Regions from separate parts of the Homo sapiens genome. Here region 2 is linked to region 1. Evidence: fine-mapped expression QTL. Tissue or cell type: whole blood. Region 1 holds a variant in brackets; the other region holds the start of a gene. Each region is shown on its reference strand, or each on the opposite one. Region 1 has its middle 46 kb from the start of QDPR. Region 2 holds the start of THAP3 (THAP domain containing 3).

The links. PIP is the estimated chance that this variant, and not a neighbour inherited with it, causes the effect.
Region 2: it holds the start of THAP3, and the variant in region 1 is the best candidate, but not a certain one, in a credible set for the expression of THAP3 in whole blood (TOPMed, PIP 0.51).

Annotation. Positions count from the first base shown.
Region 1 is chr4:17,461,426-17,471,055 of GRCh38, reverse strand. No RefSeq gene overlaps it. Among named protein-coding and RNA genes, the nearest start is that of QDPR, 46 kb to the left of the region's middle. RefSeq lists an enhancer at 1-324. The variant G/A (reference allele first, on the strand shown) is at 5,186.
Region 2 is chr1:6,619,018-6,628,647 of GRCh38, reverse strand. THAP3 (THAP domain containing 3) reads right to left here and starts at 3,780. Exons shown (of 6, transcript NM_001195753.2): 1 at 3,694-3,780; 2 at 3,356-3,498; 3 at 1-149. The coding sequence starts at 3,429. PHF13 (PHD finger protein 13) reads right to left here. Exons shown (of 4, transcript NM_153812.3): 3 at 8,311-8,845; 4 at 4,618-7,237. The coding sequence ends at 7,011. RefSeq lists a silencer at 2,980-3,389.

The sequences.
Region 1 (9,630 bases):
CCTAATTATTCCTTGAACCTGCCCTCCTCCTGCCTCTGCACTCCACCTTCCTCCATTGCTTTAGCCCAGCCATTTCTCTCCTCTTCTCCACCTTGATTCAGCTAACTCCTCCTAGACCTGGCATAGTCATCCGTTCCAGGAACCCTTATCTGATAAAATCCCATCCCTTTGCCCAAAGGCTGGGCTGGGTCAGGTGCCCCTCCTACCGACAGTTTCCTGTGTCGTCATTGGCCACCTCTTGTGCCTCGCCTTGCATCCTCCCTGCCCACATTTTATTCCAGTCATGGCTGGGGCCACCAGCTTTGAGCAAGTGCAAGCTGACCGCATGTCCCTGGCTGTCCTGCCTACCTCGCTTTCTGCCTCTGGGCTTGCCTGACATTGAGGAATGGGATGTCTGCAGAAATGTGCCAGGCACTCACACATGCGCAAACCTGGGAGGGTGGAGAGTTAATGCTCCAAGGGGCAACACACTTGACCACTGGGAGACGGGCTGGTGGACGAATGTTCCCCTCCTGTCCTTCTGACGATGTGTCAGAATGAGGCACATCACTCTTCACCACTCCTTAGACAGCCTCTAGTGGCATCATTCCCAGTTACTTAGAACGTGATGCAGCTTGGTATGAGGTTGCTGCAAAAGTCATTGCGGTTTTTACCATTGAAAGTAATACCAGAAACCGCAATCACTTTTGCACCAACATAATAAAATGTGTGTTGGCTTTCCCTCCTGCCCTGTTTCACTCTTCCTATGCCCCTAGTCCCCAACTCTGCTTCCGAGGACCACTTCCTTAAATAAATTAGTTCATACAATCCCTTATCTTAGGTTTTGCTTGACTTGAGAGGGACACAAGCTATATTTAACTCAAACACTGCCTTTGTCAAATTAAGAGTATAATAGTTACTTGTTTATATTTCTGTCTCTTCACTCAACTACAAGTTCTTTAAAGCAGGGACTATGCCTCCTTTGTCATCCAAGTAATGCATAATAAGCGCTTGTTAAGTGAATGGCTCAGGGGTAGAAAGAACAGGCTGCTGGATGAAGCTGGAAACCATCATTCTCAGCAAACTATCGCAAGGACAAAAAACCAAACACCGCATGTTCTCACTCATAGGTGGGAATTGAACAATGAGAACACATGGACACAGGAAGGGGAACATCACACACTGGGGCCTGTTGTGGTGTGGGGGGAGCGGGGAGGGATAGCATTAGGAGATATACCTAATGTTAAATGACGAGTTGATGGGTGCAACACACCAACATGGCACATGTATACATATGTAACAAACCTGCATGTTGTGCACATGTACCCTAAAACTTAAAGTATAATTAAAAAAAAAAAAAAAGAAAAGAAAGAACAGGCTGCATTTACCCTTGGCAGCTAAAGTGCATGGGGCATAAAGCACCCTTAGAAGATGCTTTTCATGCGTTACCTCATTTAATTCTAATTTAATTCTAGAGCAACCCTAGGAGGTAAGTGCTGTTATTATTCCCATTTTAAAGATGAGGAACAAGTTGAGAGAGTTAGATATCTTTTCTTTCTTTTATTTTATTTTTTTGAGATGGAGTCTCACTCTGTCTTGCCCAGGCTGGAGTGCAGTGACATGATCTCGGCTCACTGCAGACTCTGCCTCCCAGGTTCAAGTGATTCTCCTGTCTCAGCCTCCCGAGTAGCTGGGACTACAGGCGTGTGCCACCACACCTGGCTAATTTTGTATTTTTAGTAGAGACAAGGTTTCACCATGTTGACCAGGCTGGTCTCAAACTACTGACCTCAGGTGATCTACCTGCCTCAGCCTCCCAAAGTGCTGAGATTACAGGCGTGAGCCACGGTGCCCAGCCGTGAGTTAGATAACTTACCCAGAGCCACACAGCTAGAGGAAAAAGCATCAGAATTTTGAACTCTGGTCTATCTCATTCCCAAGTTGGCCTCTTATCAACTCAATTAATTATTGGGGAACTATGGAGCTTGTTATCATTACAGGATAAAGTGCTGGCGGGGAGTGCATGGAGGAGAGGTGTCTTCGTGGGCAGGGGCTGCATCATGAAGGATCTCTGTCAGGTGGTTTTTATCTTTAGGCAACGGGGAACCTCTGGAAGCTTAAAACATTTTCTCATTGTGAGCCTTTCCAAGTGTCCTGGCATTAAAAATAAATAAATAAATAAATAAATAAATAAATAAAAATACAAGCAGTTTGAAGAACTTCTGCAAGGGGGCAGGCATTGGCAGCCGATGAGACAATTCGTCTTGGAAAACTAGCGTGGGAAACTTGGTTCAGTTTTCTTTGCCTAGTGGGGCCTCTGCTCAGCCCTGTGAGTGGATCTGAGATCGATAAGTCACCCCAAGCACTGGAGACCTGCTGCTGTTCACTTTGCCTTTCGCTCCTTTCCTGCCTTCCTGTCTTCTTCCCCTCACCCTTTCTCCCCTCATTTCTCTGGCTTACTTCACAGAAGTGGAAATAGGTTCAAAAATGTGTAAGTTGGTGCAAAAGTAATCGCGGTTTTTGCCACTAAAAGCAATAGCAAAAACCGCTATTACTTTTGCACCAATGTAATAGTAGCAGCTTCCTAAACATCGCCAAGTTTGCAACATCGTGAAAGCCCAATCCACCTTCAAACAACAGCACACAAACAGCAACAGTCATCGCAACAGCAGTGTAGACCTCAGTATGTCCGCCAGCCATGGGAAAAGGTCTGTGCCCTGCCGTCACGTATCAGGAGTCCCTGTACAGTGTCCGTCCCCTCTGCACACTTTGGAAATGGTTATTGATTCCAATTTAGGCTCAGGTGACATTTGCTGAATACCTACCATGTATCAGGCTTGGTGCTGTGAGATTGAGCCTATGTTATTTCATTGAATCTTCATACTCATAGTTTGAGCTAAGTCAGATTTTCCCTGTTTACAAAGGAGGAAACTGAGTATCAGAGAGGCTAAGGTCACCGGATTGGCAGGTCATGAAGCCATATTTAAACCAGATTTTTGAACTTCTACTGTAGTGTTCCTGCCTTTAAACCACACTGGAGTGGTTGGCTGATCCTCTCTCTATGTGAGTGTGATTCAGAGTGACCGACGGAGGGTGGAGGGAGACGTGAAGCAGCTTTTTTTCTTTGATGTCATCCAGGCTTGATGCGTAGATGCTCCGGAGGGAAAAAGAGGAGTGGAGAGAGGTTGTCATTGCTCTAAACTTCAGCTTTCTGACTCCATGTACAGGGTGGGGTGGCGTGGGGGGTTCAAGCTGGAGAACTCAGGTAAGAGGAATGGGTTTAAGGGCCCAGGGAATGGAAACCCTTGGCTGACTCTCTGCTCAGCCACCGACTGTCCTGGGTAATCCTGGTGGACAGCAGAGGGCTGCGGTCCAACAAGAAATTCTATGGAACCCCTGTACAGAGGAGAGTGCTAGGGAGCAGGAGTTTCAGAGTGACCCGCTCAAGGCCATCAGTGGAAGAGCCAGGCGTGGAACTCTGGTTTCCCATCTTGAGGGCCTTGAGCGTCCCTTTGCACCAGAATTTTCCAAAGTGGGATCCACACTGTGCCCTCGGGGCAGGTGTACCGGGGGTATGGGGAGGGACACAGGTGAACGCTTCTTATTTAATAATCATAAACAACAGAGTCTCGCTCTGTTGTTTATTTTGATGTGTATTAGGAAAATACATAGCAACCACATCAAAACCATGAATACATGGATATTATTGTGAGGATGAGGATAAGTAGACAGTGCATAAAAAATAAACATTACCTGAGGAATACACTACATAATGTAATGTATATAGTGTATTAGCTTCCTATTGCTGCTGTAACAAATTACCACCAACTTATTGGTTTAAAACAATACAAATTGATCATCTTATAGTTACAGAGGCCAGAAGTCTTAAAATCATGGTGGCCGGGCACAGTGGCTCACACCTGTAATTCCAGCACTTTGGGAGGCCAAGGCAGGCGGATCACTTGAGCTCAGGAGTTCGAGACCAGCCTGGCCAACGTGGTGAAATCCTGTCTCTACTGAAAGTACAAAAAATTAGCCAGGCATGGTGGCTCATGCCTATAGTCCCAGCTACTTGGGAGGCTGAGGTAGGAGAATTGCACGGACCTGGGAGGTGGAGGTTGCAGTGAGCCAAGATCGTGTCACTGCATTCCAGCCTGGGCAACAGAGCGAGACTCCATCTCAAAAAACTAAACCCCAAAAAACAAAAACAGAAGTCTTAAAATCAAGGTGTTGCCAGGGCTGCATTTCTTCTGAGGGCTCTAGGGAAGAACTTGAGTCCTTGCTTTCTCTAGCTTTTAGAAGCTGCCTGCCTTCCTTAGCTTAGGGCCCCATCCTCACAACACACCTGGTTTTTCTGAGTTTGACCCTTCTGCCTCCCTTTTATAAGGAGCCTTATAATTACATTGGGCCCTCCTAGGAAATCCAGAATAATCTCTCCTTTTCGAGATCCTTTTAATCACATCTGCAAAGTCCCTTTTGCCATGTAAGGTGCCATATTCACAGGTTCCGGGAATTAGGACACAAGCATCTTTCGGCAGTTATCATTCTAGTAGACATGGTATGAATATGTGGTGTATGGGGAAACTCAGGCAGCTCATGTTTGAGTGATTGGAGATTGGGGAGTTCTGCTTTACACTCCAGCTGCCTCCTTATGGGCCATTTTTGGACTTGAAGTTGGCTTTCTTGGGATCTGTGTAGGTGCAGGCTTAGGCAGAGGAAAACTTTGCTATTTGAGAGCATACTTGCCTGTTCATGAGGGCTTCTATGGGAATGTCTTTCGGAGAGCTGGTAGACCTGGAATCAAATTCGGGGGTTGAGGCCACAAAGAGCGGACTGGCTCTGCATAAAAGTGTGAGGAGAGAGCAAAGGAGAATGCATAGCTTTGCTGAGGTGGTGGGAGGCAGAGGAACTCTTAAAGAACAGGGTGTCTGATATTTAATCTGGAGTTATTTTCATTCTTGCCATGGAACTGCTCCTTTGTTTCATCTCATGCTTGGAAAAAATCTATAAAAATGCTGTGTGTGTGTGTGTGTGTGTGTGTGTGCCTGTGCATGCATGGGTTGAAAAAATTACTGGCCTCCACTGGTTAATTTTTTTTTTTTCTGAGTCGCAGCCCAGGCTGGAGTACAGTGACATGATCTTGGCTCACTGCAACCTCTGCCTCCCGGGTTCAAACAATTCTCATGCCTCAGCCTCCTGAGTAACT[G/A]GGATTACACATCCAGCTAATTTTTGTGTTTTTAGTAGAGACGAGGTTTCACCATGTTGGCCAGGCTGGTCTTGAACTCCTGAGTTCAAGTGATCTGCACGCCTCAACCTCCTAAAGTGCTGGGATTACATGTGTGAGCCACTGTGCCCGGCCTGGTTAAATTTTTTTTTTTTTTTTTTTGAGATAGAGTCTCACTCTGTTGCCCAGACTGGAGTGCAGCGGGGCAAACTGCAGTCTCGAACTCCTGGTCTCAAGTGATCCTCCTGCCTCATACGCCCAAGTAGCTGGGACCACAGTTACGCATCACCACACCCAGCTAATTTTCTTGATTTTTAGTAGAGAGGAAGTCTCACTATGTTGTCTAGGCTGGTCTTGAACTCCTGAACTCAAGTGATCCTCCTGCCTCAGTCTCCCAAAGTGCTGAGATTATAGGTGTGAGCCACCGTGCCTGGCCCACTGGTTAAAATTTTTATCCCTGCCTCCTTGCTCCCTCCTATTAAAGGAAAGGCTGATTTCCTTATCTGTATCTTGAGGGACAGACTGTGATGCATAGGCTGAGTAGCTAGGCATAGGCAAAGGCAACTGTGAGAGTAAAGCATCGCAAATATCTCAGGGGAGGCTTTGGTCTTCCTCAGCATTATCTCAGTTAATCCTCACTGGGACCTCTGAGACCCAGATAAGTTGGTTTCACAATGGACCAATTGGGATTTTAGTTACATCTGTGGGACTCTAAGGCCAGTTCTGGAATTTGTTGTCTTGGACAAACATACCTGTTTCCTGCTTTTTGGAAACAGGATAGTCTCAATTCTCACCTAGACCTCATTGCATTAACTAGATCCTCCTGTATCAATTTTAATGAGTCTTCCCTTAGGGCTTTTCATGTGTGGAGAACTAGGTGGAGTGGCAAAGATAAACAAAGTCAGACACCAGTTAATGTGGTATGGACAGATATTAATCAGTAATACAGTGGTCTTCTCTTATCTGAGGGGTTATCTTCCAAGACCTCCAGTGGATGCCTGAAACCACAGATAGTACCAAACCCTATCGTATTAGTTTTCATGCTGCTGGTAATGACATACCAGAGGCTGGGCAATTTACAAAGGAAAGAGGTTTAATGGACTTACAGTTCCACGTGGCTGGGGAGGCCTCACAATCATGGCGGAAGGTAAGGAGGAGCAAGTCACATCTTAAATGGATGGTGGCGGGCGAAGAGAGAAGAGAGTTTGTGCAGGGAAACTCTCCTTTTTAAAACCATCAGATCTCATGAGACTTATTCACTATCATGAGAACAGTACGGGAAAGACCTGCCCCCAGGATTCAATTACCTCCCACTGGGTTCCTCCCACAACATGTGGGAATTCAAGATGAGATTTGGGTGGGGACACAGCCAAACCATATCACCTATATACTGTTTTTTTGATCTGATAACCCAGATTGCTACTGAGTGACTAGTGGGTGGGTGGCACAGGCAACGTGAGTACCCTGGACAAAGACATGATTTACGTCCAGGTCAGGAAAGAGTGGGATGGTGTGAGATTTCATCATGATAGCCAGAACAGACATGGAATTTACAACTTGTGAATTGTTTATTTCTGGAATTTTTCTTTTTATATTTTCAGATCACAGTTGCTGGTAACTGAAACCAGAAAGCATAAAACCTCAGAAAGGGGTTAACTACTATATACTATTGAAATAGGGAAGAAGGTCAGGTGTAAACTCAACTTTGATTTGTACGGAGGTGACCGGGCATTTTAAAGGGAGACTGGAGTAGGGTGGGGGCAACTGGGGGCTCATTTGAGTCAGAGAAAAGACAAATTACAAAAAGTAGGAAGAAAAGATTGGTCCATGTGAAACCCATCTGGGTTTGTTGCCTGGCTCTTATTGAATGTAGGTGGGCTCCTACCCTCCCACAGAGACTGGGAGACAGGCTCTGTCCTCAGGTTGCTGGAACAAACAGTACATTCTTTTGGCAACCTGGAGTTTTCTCAGGCAGGCACTTTAAGGAAGCTGGAGTTGTCCTAGGGATATGGCTGAGCTGTTAGAAACTATGTTAGTGTTTGCTCAAGTCTTTCTAGGCCATGCCTTGAGGTCTAGTAGAGAAAGGGCTCAGAGGGCCCTGGCTAGAGTTTGGTCGAGGACAGAATCTTGGTCAGGAGTGTGCTACAGTGTGTCAGGTGTGGTCCTGCACTGTTCCCAAAGTGTGTTTCTTAGAACACCATTGTGCTGGGATGGTAATAGGTGTCCATGGAAAAAGAGGTCCATAAGTAAGGAAAATATTGAAAGTTAATCCATTATCTATCTATCTATCTATCTATCTATCTATCTATCTATCTATCATCTATCTATCCATCCTCTATTTGATAGATAGATAAAACTTCTCAGAGCCTCTAATATATGCATTGGGGGTCTCCAAGAGGGAGATTTCATTAGGAATCAGTATCTAGAGAAAATGTATGCCTGGCACAGAACAAGTGCTCTGTGACTGTGTGTGTGGCATGAATGAATGAAGCAGTGAGTGGATATTAGAGACGATGGACTGCAGGAGTCTAAGAGAGGAAAGAAGGAAAGAAAACTTACTGCATCAGTGAGTAGCTCGGGACTCTGGTAATGAATGATCAAGTAAAAAAGTATGAATATTTACTTTTTTTTTTTCTTTTTTTTAGACAGAGTTTTGCTTTTGTTGCCCAACCTGGAGTACAATAGTACGATCTAAGCTCATTGCAACCTCCACCTCCTGGGTTCAAGCAATTCTCCTGCCTCAGCCTCCCGAGTAGCTGGGATTACAGGCGCCTGCCACCATGCCTGGCTAATTTTTGTATTTTTAGTAGAGACGGGGTTTCACCATGTTGGCCAGGCTGGTCTCAAACTCTTGACCTCAGATGATCCGCCCACCTTGGCCTCCCAAAGTGCTGGGATTATAGGCATGAGCCACTGCACCCAGCCGATTATTTACTATGTTAATAGCTACTATTTATTAAGCAACTACTATGTGCTGGGCATGATGGTAGATGCTTTCTTCTATTATCTTTTTTAGTTAAAACAGATCAAGAAATATAATTAAACATTTAGGAGGGTTTTTGTAGGCTTGGTTTATAGAAGTAATCACTAAAAGCAATTGTGATAATCTGACAAAGACTTAAGCTTACCTGTGGTCATAATAGGAAGGGCTAAAGACCAGCTAACCCTCCAAGCCACTTGAAATATTAGTAATTAATGGCAGAGTGTTATGCATAATTAGACACTAGTAGTGTGCAGCTTTTTTTGAAATGCAGCATTTACATTGGACGTCAATCTTTGCTTTCGTCAGGAAACCACCAGCGTACTGTACGTTGTTAAATGAAAGCAAGCAGCCAGGTTAAATTCTAATTAAACATTACCATTGTTATTTGAAAAATAACAGCTTAGTGTTGGTGTCAAATTGACTTTTATCCACGAATGGAATTAGAACATTTTGTCATTTTAGGCTGTCTAATACATGTGAATAACACTTCCTGAGAAGCTGTCTTTGACTTTAGTTAAGTTGAAACAAAGAGAATTAATATGGTGAGGATGTAAATGAGGATGTCATTTAGCAAAAGAAAAGGATTATGTTGTATCTGTTTTCCTTTGAGCCTCTACCGGTGCTTTGTAAGCAGGCTGGACATTTTTCTGGACTGTGAATTCCAAATGTAGCTCCTGTTACTGCATGGTGGTTCAGTGGGTAAGCTGTTCCCGTTTGCTGCGTGCAACTTTCCCAAACCAGCTGTCTGAGCAGGGAAATGAGTGGGCTTTCCCAAGGGGCAGAAGGATAAAAGAAGAAAGAAAACTTTGAGTTTTAAGAAAATGTGTACTGAGAATGAATGTATCAAGAACTTGTTAGGATAGAAAGTAAATTTAAGGCAGAATTGCACATATATAAAGCTGGTAGGGAGGTGGCACGGTGGTGGGCATTGAGAACCAGACAGACTGATTGACTAGTTATTGATTAAGTTCTCCTATGTGCCAGACCCTGGCAGTCACTGCCTTTGAGAATCTTAGATTTCAGAACTATGAGGAAGACCTACAATTGCAATGGGATTGTGGAGTGGACAGCACAGTGCAAATCTCAAATCTTTTAGTTTCTACCTATGTGATCTTGGACAAATTATTTCACCTGTCTGATTCTCATGTTTTTCATTTGTAAAATGGGGGCACTAGCCTCAACCTCACAGATTTATTGTGAGGATGAAGCGAAATACTACATTAAGAGATCTAGTATAGTGTCCTGAATACACATAGCCCTCAGTAACCTGCTAGTGTCCTTTGTCTTAATACCGAAACCACCTTTGTCTTAATACTGAAAAAACAGACAGAGAAAGAGATTTGACCTAACCAACTCCATCTTGCTTCTAACCTCCAAGCTGTCCTTGTTCATTCCGGGGTGTAGGCTGAACTAACTTTGAGAGGAAATTAGTTTATGGTTTAAA
Region 2 (9,630 bases), not on the chromosome of region 1:
GCTTTAGGTTCTTGCGGTTTCCAAAGGCGCTGAAGCACTCTGGCCGGAAGTGCTCGGAGCAGATGACCGTGTGCTGCTTGGGCTTGAAGTTGCCCCGGCCGATGTTCAGCACCCATTCCTTCAGCAGCTCCGGGCGGCTGAACGGAAACCTAAGGGCAGAGGCACGGGGTGTGAGGCCCAGCAAGGCTGGACCCAGCGCCTCAGAGTCATTCGGAATTTTCACATCACTACAGAGTACTTCCCTGGACAGCTGTGGACATTCAGTCCTCTCGGTTTATTAAATCACATCTAATTTCTGGAAGCTTCTGTCACAGCTGTTAAAGCACTCTTAATAGGAAACCCGAGACCACGAGCATGGCCAGAGAGCCCAAGTGAGCTGCTTCCGATGCTACATTTGCCAGGAGCCTACCAGGAGCCGGGCCCTGTTCTTCGTGCTAGGGATGGGGGGTAATGAGACAGTCCTGGCCCCCAAGAGCTGATATTCTGGAGCGGGGGCACAGTGATGAGCCACACAGATGTGGACGGTGTCTTCTGGGGATGACAGCTGCTCCAGAGAACAGACAGAGGGAAGCCCTGGGGTGGTGAGGAGAGGCAGCTGAAGGGGTGATGTTTGAGCACAGACCGCAGGAAGTGGCAGCACAAGCGACGCAGGCTTCAGAAGGGACAGCAGGAACGGCCACTCACGCAGGTCCAGCTGAGACAGCGAGAGGGAGTGGGGACTGCATGACGCAGGGCCCTGAGCAGCTGGGGAGTCCCTGGAGGCTCTAGACAGAGGTGAGATGGAACCTGGGTCCACCCTGGCTGCTGTGGGACCAGGCATTGGCAGGAAGTGGTAATGAGAGGGCAGACTTGGATGTATTTTGAAAGCCATGCAGTAAGGTTTGCCTGTAGATGGTAAAATTGAGAAGGAAGGAGTTTCATGTTGGAGATAAAATTAAGTTACAGGACGGCAGGTTAAGGGGATCAGAAGTTTGTTTTGTAGCAGCTGAGCATGGTGGCTCACGCCTGTAATCCCAGCACTTTGGGAGGCCAAGGCAGACAGACTGCCTCAACTCAGGAGTTCAAGACCAGCCTGGCCAACATGGTGAAACCCCATCTCTACTAAAGATGCAAAAATTAGCCCAGCGTGGTGGCGCACTCCTGTGATCCCAGCTACTTGGGAGGCTGAGGCACAAGAATCACCTGAACCAGGGAGGCAGAGGCTGCAGTGAGCCGAGACTGCGCCACTGCACTCCACCTGGGCAACAGAGTGAGAGTCTGTCTCCAAAAAAAGAAGTTTGTTTTTTATGTCAGGAGTTAAATTTGAGGTGCTTTTTAGGCTCTCCATGTGCTGGGGTGACAGGCGGCCACACGCATCTGGAGATGTCAGTGTGGCGGCCAACCCTGCGGAACCGATAAGCCTGGGTGAGATGGGCCCCTGGGGAGCAAGTGTGGCTAGAAGCCACCCCTGGGCCATGGCCCACACCCCAGGGCTCCAACACTTAGTGCTGGAAATAAGGAGGATCCAGCAAAGGAGACTGAGAAGAGACACCTGTGGCCAAGAAGTGTACCAGACGCCATGCGGGAAAAGTGACCCAGGCTCAGGGGTCAGTTGTGTGAAATGCTATGCAATCGATCAGTGTCACAAGGCTCACTAGTGATGTGACAGAGCTCTCGTGGGAGTGGAGGAAACGACTTCAAGAGAGAAGGCGCAGCAACTCCATCCCCAAGTACATACCTGACAGAGGCAAAACAGATAGATGCACTGCAACACAAGTCCCACCAAAACTGGCCAAAACAATGTTTGTTTTGTTTTGTTTTTTGAGACGGAGTCTCGCTCTGTTGCCCAAGATGGAGTGTAGTGGTGCGATCTCGGTTCACTGCAAGCTCTGCCTCCCAGGGTCAAGTGATTCTCCTGCCTTAGCCTCCTGAGTAGCTGGGATTTCAGGTGCGCGCTACCACGCCCGGGTAATTTTTGTATTTGTAGTAGAGAAGTAGAGACGGGGTTTCACCATGTTGGTCAGGCTGGTCTCCAACTCCTGACCTCAGGTGATCCACCCAGCTCGGCCTCCCAAAGTGCTGGGATTACAGGCGTGAGCCACCACGCCCAGCCTCCAGAACCATGTATTTGTCATCCAAAAAATGGGGCCACCCAAATGCCCTTCAATTGTAGAACAAATCAGTAAATTCTGGCACTTGCATTCAATGGAATATTATGTGGCAACGAAAGCGAATGAACTGCAATCCACTCTGATAGCGGGCAGGATAGGGTTCCCTTTGGGCAGGAGAGAGGAGGAGGGCCTGGGAGGGGGTCCAGGTAGGGGTTCTTCTCGGGGGTAGTGATGTTTTATTTCTTATTTTGAGATGAGGTATCGCTCTGTCACCCAGGCTGGAGTGCAGTGGCAAGATTATAGCTCACTGCAGCCTCGAAGCTGGGTTCAAGCGATCCTCCTACTTCAGTCTCCCGAGCAGCTGGGACTACAGGGGCACACCACCTTGCCTGGCTAATTTTTTTAAATTATTTGTAGAGGTAGGGTCTCCTTCTGTTGCCCAGGCAGGTCTCGAACTCCCAGGCTCAAGCGATCCTCCCGCCTCGGCCTCCCAAAGTGCTGGGATGACAGGCTTGAGCCACCGCGCCCAGCTGGTAACGTTTCAGTTCAGTGACGTTCACTTGGGGAAAACTCGCTGGGCTGTATACTTATGATTCGTGCATTTTTCTGCATGTACATTACGTATACTTCAAGCAAAGCATTTATCACAAAACAGAACAATGGGAGCAGAGGGAATGGGAACGATGAGCACAAGCCCCCCTTCGGAATGTGCCCAAAAGTGGGTAGAGAAATGGTGCCGTGACTGGACCTTGGAGAAAGCGCAACTGTGACTAATGACGATTGCTCCTGGGCCGGGCCGGGCCGGGCCGGGCGAGTGCTGGAGCAGACTCCAAAGTCTCCAGCGTCCTCCCGCGACCCTGCAGAGTCCCTTCCCACTGCCAGGACGCCCCTGGGGGTTCCACTCCTCCACTGCACTGCCCAGGTGCCGGGCTCCCTTCAGGACCGCGCGCGGCGGGGGCTGCAGCGACCAGGGACACAGCAAACCCCGGCCGCGGCCCGCTAGTCTGTTCAGCAAACACCTGCTCCGCTCCCTGCACGTCCCGGCCCTGGCCCCGCCAGGTGCGCCGCTGCCCCTCCGTCCGCCACTCCCCGCATCCCCGCGGCGGGCGCGGCGGCGCCAGCCCCTCTGGGCCCAGGACCTCGGCCTGTCCCCGGGCCCAGCGGCCGCACGCCTTTGGGCCTCCCGCCCGGCGCGCCAAGGCCTCGGAGTCGGTCCGCGGGCCCCGGGTCTGGGCCTCCCGCGCCCCCGGGTCCCCGCCTCTTACCGGTGGAAGGTGAGCTGCTTCCTGCGGCTGCTGTAGCGGTTGCAGCACTGCCGGGCCGCGCACGACTTCGGCATCTCGAGCCAGGCCTGGCTGCCCCCAACAAAGATGGCGGCGGCGGCGGGGCCTGCGGAGAGGGGAGGGACCTGCGGGGAGGGGCGGGGCCGCTGGGAGGTGGTGACGGGCCTGGCTCGCCTCCAGGGCGCGCTCATCCTGCCATCCCAGCCACCCGCGTCTCCCCAGGGTCGGACGGGACCCGGGGCGCCACGTAAAGGGGTGCTCCGGGCCCCAATTCAGGCCCGAAACCCCAACTCCTAGCCTTGGGCCTGTGCAAGTCTTACCCCATTCGCCAATGCTGGTCGCCTTTCACCTCCTTGCTTTGAGCACCCAACCAGGACGCATAGCCACTCACAGGCTTGGACAACTGGAAACCAACGGCCAACCCCTCAGTGTTTTTAGGGCTTTGAATTGTGAATAGGTCTGGACTCCTCTGACGTCACTGGAGGTGGTACTAGTTGGCCACTGGTGGTGTCAGTTCAGAGGCCAGACAGCTCACTGCCCTTAAGTTTGGTCACAGGGAACCCCCAAACGTGAAGAGGCAAAAAGGGCAACTGAAGGGGAGGGAGATTCCAGTTCAGGCCTTGCAGAAACTCCGAGGCTGCAGCTTTCTCAAAGCAGCCTATAGGGAAGGCGTCATCTTGTAAGAAGAAAAAAAAAAAAATCGGCCAGGCGCAGTGGCTCACGCCTGTAATCCCAGCACTTTGGGAGGCCGAGGCAGGCGGATCACCTGAGATCAGGAGTTCAAGGCCAGCCTGACCGACATGGTGAAACCCCATCTCTACTAAAAATACAAAAATTAGCCGCACATGGTGGCGGGCACCTGTAATTCCAGCTACTCGGAAGGCTGAAGCAGGAGAATCTCTTGAACCCGGGAGGTGGAAGTTACAATGAGCCAAAATCTCATCACAGCACTTCACAGCCTAGGTGACAAGAACGAAACTCAAGTCTCAAAAACAAAAAAAAAATCAAAAGTAGGCTAACCACTCACTGGGGCTTGAGCTAATCCTCAATCTGATGAAGAAACTGCAAAAACCATTCACATCTACTCGTCCTGTGGTTTGTTTCTAAGGAATTCACCAGCAAGGTACCTTAACACCGTGGGCATTTTCCATCCTGCTAAGTGCACACTGAGACGCTGCCTTCCCAGAGACTTGATGTAATCATGCTTTGGGGAGGTAGCAAGGAGAAAAGAAACACAATTGTCCTTCAGCACAGAACGCAATCGCCTGAACCTTGAATCATGAACCTCAAAGTAGCAATATATTTATTTACAAAATATACAGTTTCACAGAAACAGCTTCGCTTTATACACATAAACTTTAAAATTACACAGAACCATGTAAACGATGTGAAGTGTCTGGCCTGGCCAAAGCCAATGGGAGGGCCTACTTTTGGGGTGACATCCCTCCCTCCCCTCACTTCATTAGCCACCAACCAGGAACCACAGATGGGTCGTGCCTAATTTGCATATAAAGAAGCTGATTGCAGCTGCCCAGCTCAATCTAACACAAAAACCAAGGTGTCCGACTTCTTAGACACCACCCACAGGGACAGATCTGCTAAAAGAACAAAAATGCAATCAAGGAAACAAAATGGAGATGAGTATCACATGCATTCCAGAGGCATCGAACCTTCTAGCACACGTGACAGTTGCCAGGGCCGGCAGTTCCATTCTAAAGTCACATGGATTCTTAAATGCACCTTTAAAAGCTTGTGGAATTTTTTTTTTTCAAAGCAGAAAAACACTTTGGAGCGCTGGTTATTCACGTGGTGAAGACACTGGACAGGCGTTATCTCAGGGTAGATCTTTGGCAAATTCCTCTCCAATGCGTCCTGGCTGTTTGCCCTCGTCAGTTTCTAAACCAGCTTACTATTTTTCTCTACCGAACCTCCCCCTTGGGGATCTTCACAATAAACTGGCTTCAGAAACTATTTCTCTCTAGTTTCGTGTTAATACAAGCAACAGAACTTTTAAAAAAATAAGACGGTTGGACAAGTGTGAAAGATACTAGGACAAAAAAAATGCCTCTGATTAGCCAAATTACGGTTCAAGCCCCTTGGTGCTTCAGTGGGAGAAGGTGGGAAGAGTCTGCCTGGTGGCCTGGCACAAAGGTGCCACATGAAGGGGAAGCCCCCAGCAGTGAGAACGCGGGCCCATCCCACTGAAAACAAACATGACTTGCTTGAGCATTCTTCCCTTTCCATGCCTTAAAGAAACAATGCTTATGAAAACCTACCAATCAATTAGAAAATGTTTTGAGAACAAGTACTTGAACTGCTGAAGAGCAGTGTTCATTTCAGAGAAAGCCGGAGCCCCTCTCCCTCCCAGCCCCAGAACTACCAGTGTTCCAGGGCACCCTGCCCTCGAGCAGAGTTCTTCCACAGCCTCCGGCATCAACTCCCAGGTTTTTCCAGAGCTGGCCCTCACAGGGGCCTCCCAGGTCCAGGATCCCAGCTGAGATTTAAGGAACTCGGCACAGTTCCAAGGGGTCATCCTGAAGGCCCATGTTACCCTATCACTCACTCACCAACTCAAAACAGAAAAAGAAAGACTCAAGTCCTAACTGTACCCTGTGGAACCGGCAGGCCAGCCTGTCTAAAGGGCACACAAGAGTCACCCAACGGAGAGGGCTCCCTCCCAGCTCTCCTTTACCCTATTCTTTGGAGGAACACCATGCGGGTCCCAGTGATTGCCTAACCTTTATGCTGCTACCAGAATGAGGTGAAAGGAAGAGACAAAGACAGAACCTATGAGTTCCCACACTCGCAAACAGCTGGCCTGAGCCCACCAAGACCTCACACACCAACTAAGAGGGCACTCAGCAAGAAATCAGCCAATACTTTTGGCTGTATCGTGCAAAAAGACAGGGTTTTTACATCGTGCAAAACAGGAAACTGAGTTATGAACACGGGCCATCTCAACCCCCCAACCAACTCCCTTTCCACAGAGAAGTGGCCACATTGTCCCTTTTAACAAACAGAAGGAAACCTAAGAACCACCAGCTGACCCGCCAGCCCAGCGCCCTTCCAGGGGAGCCCGAGGCCTCCCGCCAGTGCCTCCCCCAGCCGGTCAGGCAGCAGCTGAGGCAGGCAGAGGGCAAGCCACTAAGTAGGGGCAACTTGGATGGCTGCTGTACAGACACTTTTGGTAAAAGACTTAACACTCAAGAAAAAGCTTACACGTATGGCTGTTCATTAACAGGCTGGGGAAACCGAACACCTCTCCCCAACACAGTGGAAGCAGAATAACAGCTGGCACTGAGCCCAATCAGCGGGAATCTCTTAGCAATGATAGCAAAACGCACAGCTACCACGGACCCTCATTTTCAAATGAGCCAAACCCGCTGCACGTGGGTGTCCAGTCCACCTCCACTGCAGGGAACGCAGCTCTGGCAGCAGCTCTGGCTGGCAAAGGTCGCATTCGGTCACCGGCTATGTACAGTTTCTACCTTGGACAGCCTGTCCTTTTGCTTAGGCACCTAAATGGCAGGGATCTGCCCGCACCAGAGCTGAGGGTTCTGTGCTCAACTAAGAGAAGGGCAAAAAAGCCCGCGGTCGCTTCCGATTCCACGCTCGCAGCCTCCTCGCCAGCCAGCAGTCAGTCCAGGAACAGCTTCCGGGAGCCCGTCCGCGAGCGGTTGGAACGGCGGATGTCAAACTTGGAGTCCCGGCACTTTTGGCAGACAAACACTTCTGGAACATTGGATTTCCGGATTTTCGCACAGGACAGGTGAATCCAGGTGTGGCACTCATTACACTCGATCATGGGGCGGCCGGCAAATGGCTTCATGCAGAAGCAGGTCACGAGGTCCCAGGAATCGTCATCTGGAAGGAAAGATACTCTCAAGGAGGGAAGAGAAATTCCCATCATTCCTCGCCATCAGCTGGGCTTCCATGAAACCCATTAACTCTACTGACGAGAACACTTCCAACTGCCACTCGAAGCTGACACTTCTCTCTGAAAAGGCACGAGGGGCTCCAAAATGTGTGGGAACCAGGTATTACCCAGGAGATGCTTACTTTTTTTTTTTTTTCCCTAAGACAGGGTCTCACTCTGTCACCCTGGCTGGAGTGCAGTGGTGCAATCATACCTCACTGCAGCCTCAAACTCCTGCAGTCAAGCCATCCTCCCACCTCAGCCTCCCAAATAGCTGGGACTACAGGCACACACCACCACACTCGACTATTGTTTTTTTTTTTTTTCTTGAGACGGAGTTTTGCTGTCGCCCAGGCTGGAGTGCAATGGCGCGATCTTGGCTCACTGCAACCTCCACCTCCTGGGTTTAAGTAATTCTCCTACCTCAGCCTCCTGAGTAGCTGGAATTGCAGGCGCGCACCACCACGCCCAGCTAATTTTTTCTTTTTTTTTTTTGTATCTTTAGTAGAGTCGGGGTTTCACCATGTTGGTCAGGCTGGTCTCGAACTCCTGACCTCGTGATCTGCCTGCCTCGGCCTCCCAAAGTGCTGGGATTACAGGCATGAGCCACTGCGCCCAGCCTTTTTTTGTATTTTTGCAGTGACAGGGCTTTGCCATGCTGCCCAGGCTGGTCTCCAACTCCTGAGCTCAAGCAATCCACCTGCCTTGGCCTCCCAAAGTGCCGGGATTACTGGTGGAGCCACCGTGCCCGGCCTGGATGCTTACCTGGATGCTTACTTAGAACTATACCCTTTTTATGTTCTAAGGTCTTAGAATCTCAGCTGTCTCTAGTGGCAATCAACCCCTTCCTAAACATCTCGATATCCACATTCCTGCAGCTTTTCTCCTCCTTGGACAGTGGGGCTGTCACACTCTACGGAAGGCACCAGACCCTGTGCCCCAGAGAGATGACCACTTAATAAAATAACCTCTCTTCTAACCACAAGCCAACAAGGGTCATCATCCTTCAGGGACCACTCACCTGAGTCCACCATGATGTCCTCATCATTGCCAGTGCTGTCCTCATCTCGGAACACCACCTGCTTTCCCTGCCGGACGATAGTCCGTTTGCCTTCAGTTTTTATTTCTTTGACCTGATCAGGTGACACAGTGGCACAAGATCCACTCGAGGGAGTATCGGAGTCCCAGCCCGAGCAGGGGTCGCTGGGAGCCTGGGGGATATCCTGCAAGGTGGGACTCGTGGGGGTCTCCACGTAGGGGTCAGCGGCTTCCAGCTTCAGCAAGCCCCCCCTGTACCCCTCTTTCCCAGGCGCATCACTGTCCCTGCGCTTCCTCTTCTTCTTCTTCTTCAGCTTGTCCGTTTTCTTTCTGTCCAGCAGGAAGTTACTGGGCTTGGCTCGCTGCAAGAGAGTAGGCTGCAGGTGGCTAAAGCAGCGGTCAGAGACTGGCAAGGGCACTGAGGACGCGATGTCTGAGAAACCCGCGTCCCAGCCGTCGCTGTCAATGGTACCAGCAGTGCTGTTAGCAGGGCTGGGGCTGCTCCTTAAAGGGAGTTCCTAAAAAGACAAAGGTGGCAGATTCCAGTTACTGGTGACAAGATCCAGCCCAGAGCAGAGCATCCCCAGCCACCCAGCCATGTCAGACCTCCAGAGACATCTGCACAACTTTGAGCTTCTCTGCCCATCAGCATCACACTTGAAGCAACAGTAACATGAGTTCTGGCTGGGCGTGGTGGCTCACACCTGTAATCCCAGCACTCTGGGACGCCAAGGCAGGCGGATCACCTGAGACCAGGAGTTCAAGACCAACCTGGCCAACATGGTGAAACCCCATCTCTACTAAAAATACAAAAATTAGCTGGGCGTGGTGGTGGTGCCTGTAGTCCCAGCTACTTGGGAGGCTGAGGCAGGAGAATCGCTTGAACCCGGGAGGCAAATGTTGCAGTGAGCCACTGCACTCCAGCCTTGGTAACGGGAGGGAGATTCTGTGTCTCAAAAAAAAAAAAACCCAGTGCCATCAGTGCCATGAGTTTAATGTGATGCCACGAAGAGAGAAACTCCCTGCTGAACCCTCAGCCCCATCTTAGAGACAGAAAATTCATCAGTGTGCAACAGGTGTCTGTGGGAAGGAGTGCTGTGGACACCCACTCCTATCTGCTCATTGTTCCCTGATTGTAAAACCTCTCCTTCCATTTGCCCTCCCAAGAGATATATTGTTTTAAGTGAATTTAAATTAGTTTTGAGAATTTCCTGACACTCTTAAAAAACTAGACATTCCAAAATATTGCAGAATCCAAGTAGGTAATTACTGCCCCAAAGCAGTGAAGTAAACTCTATGGTTC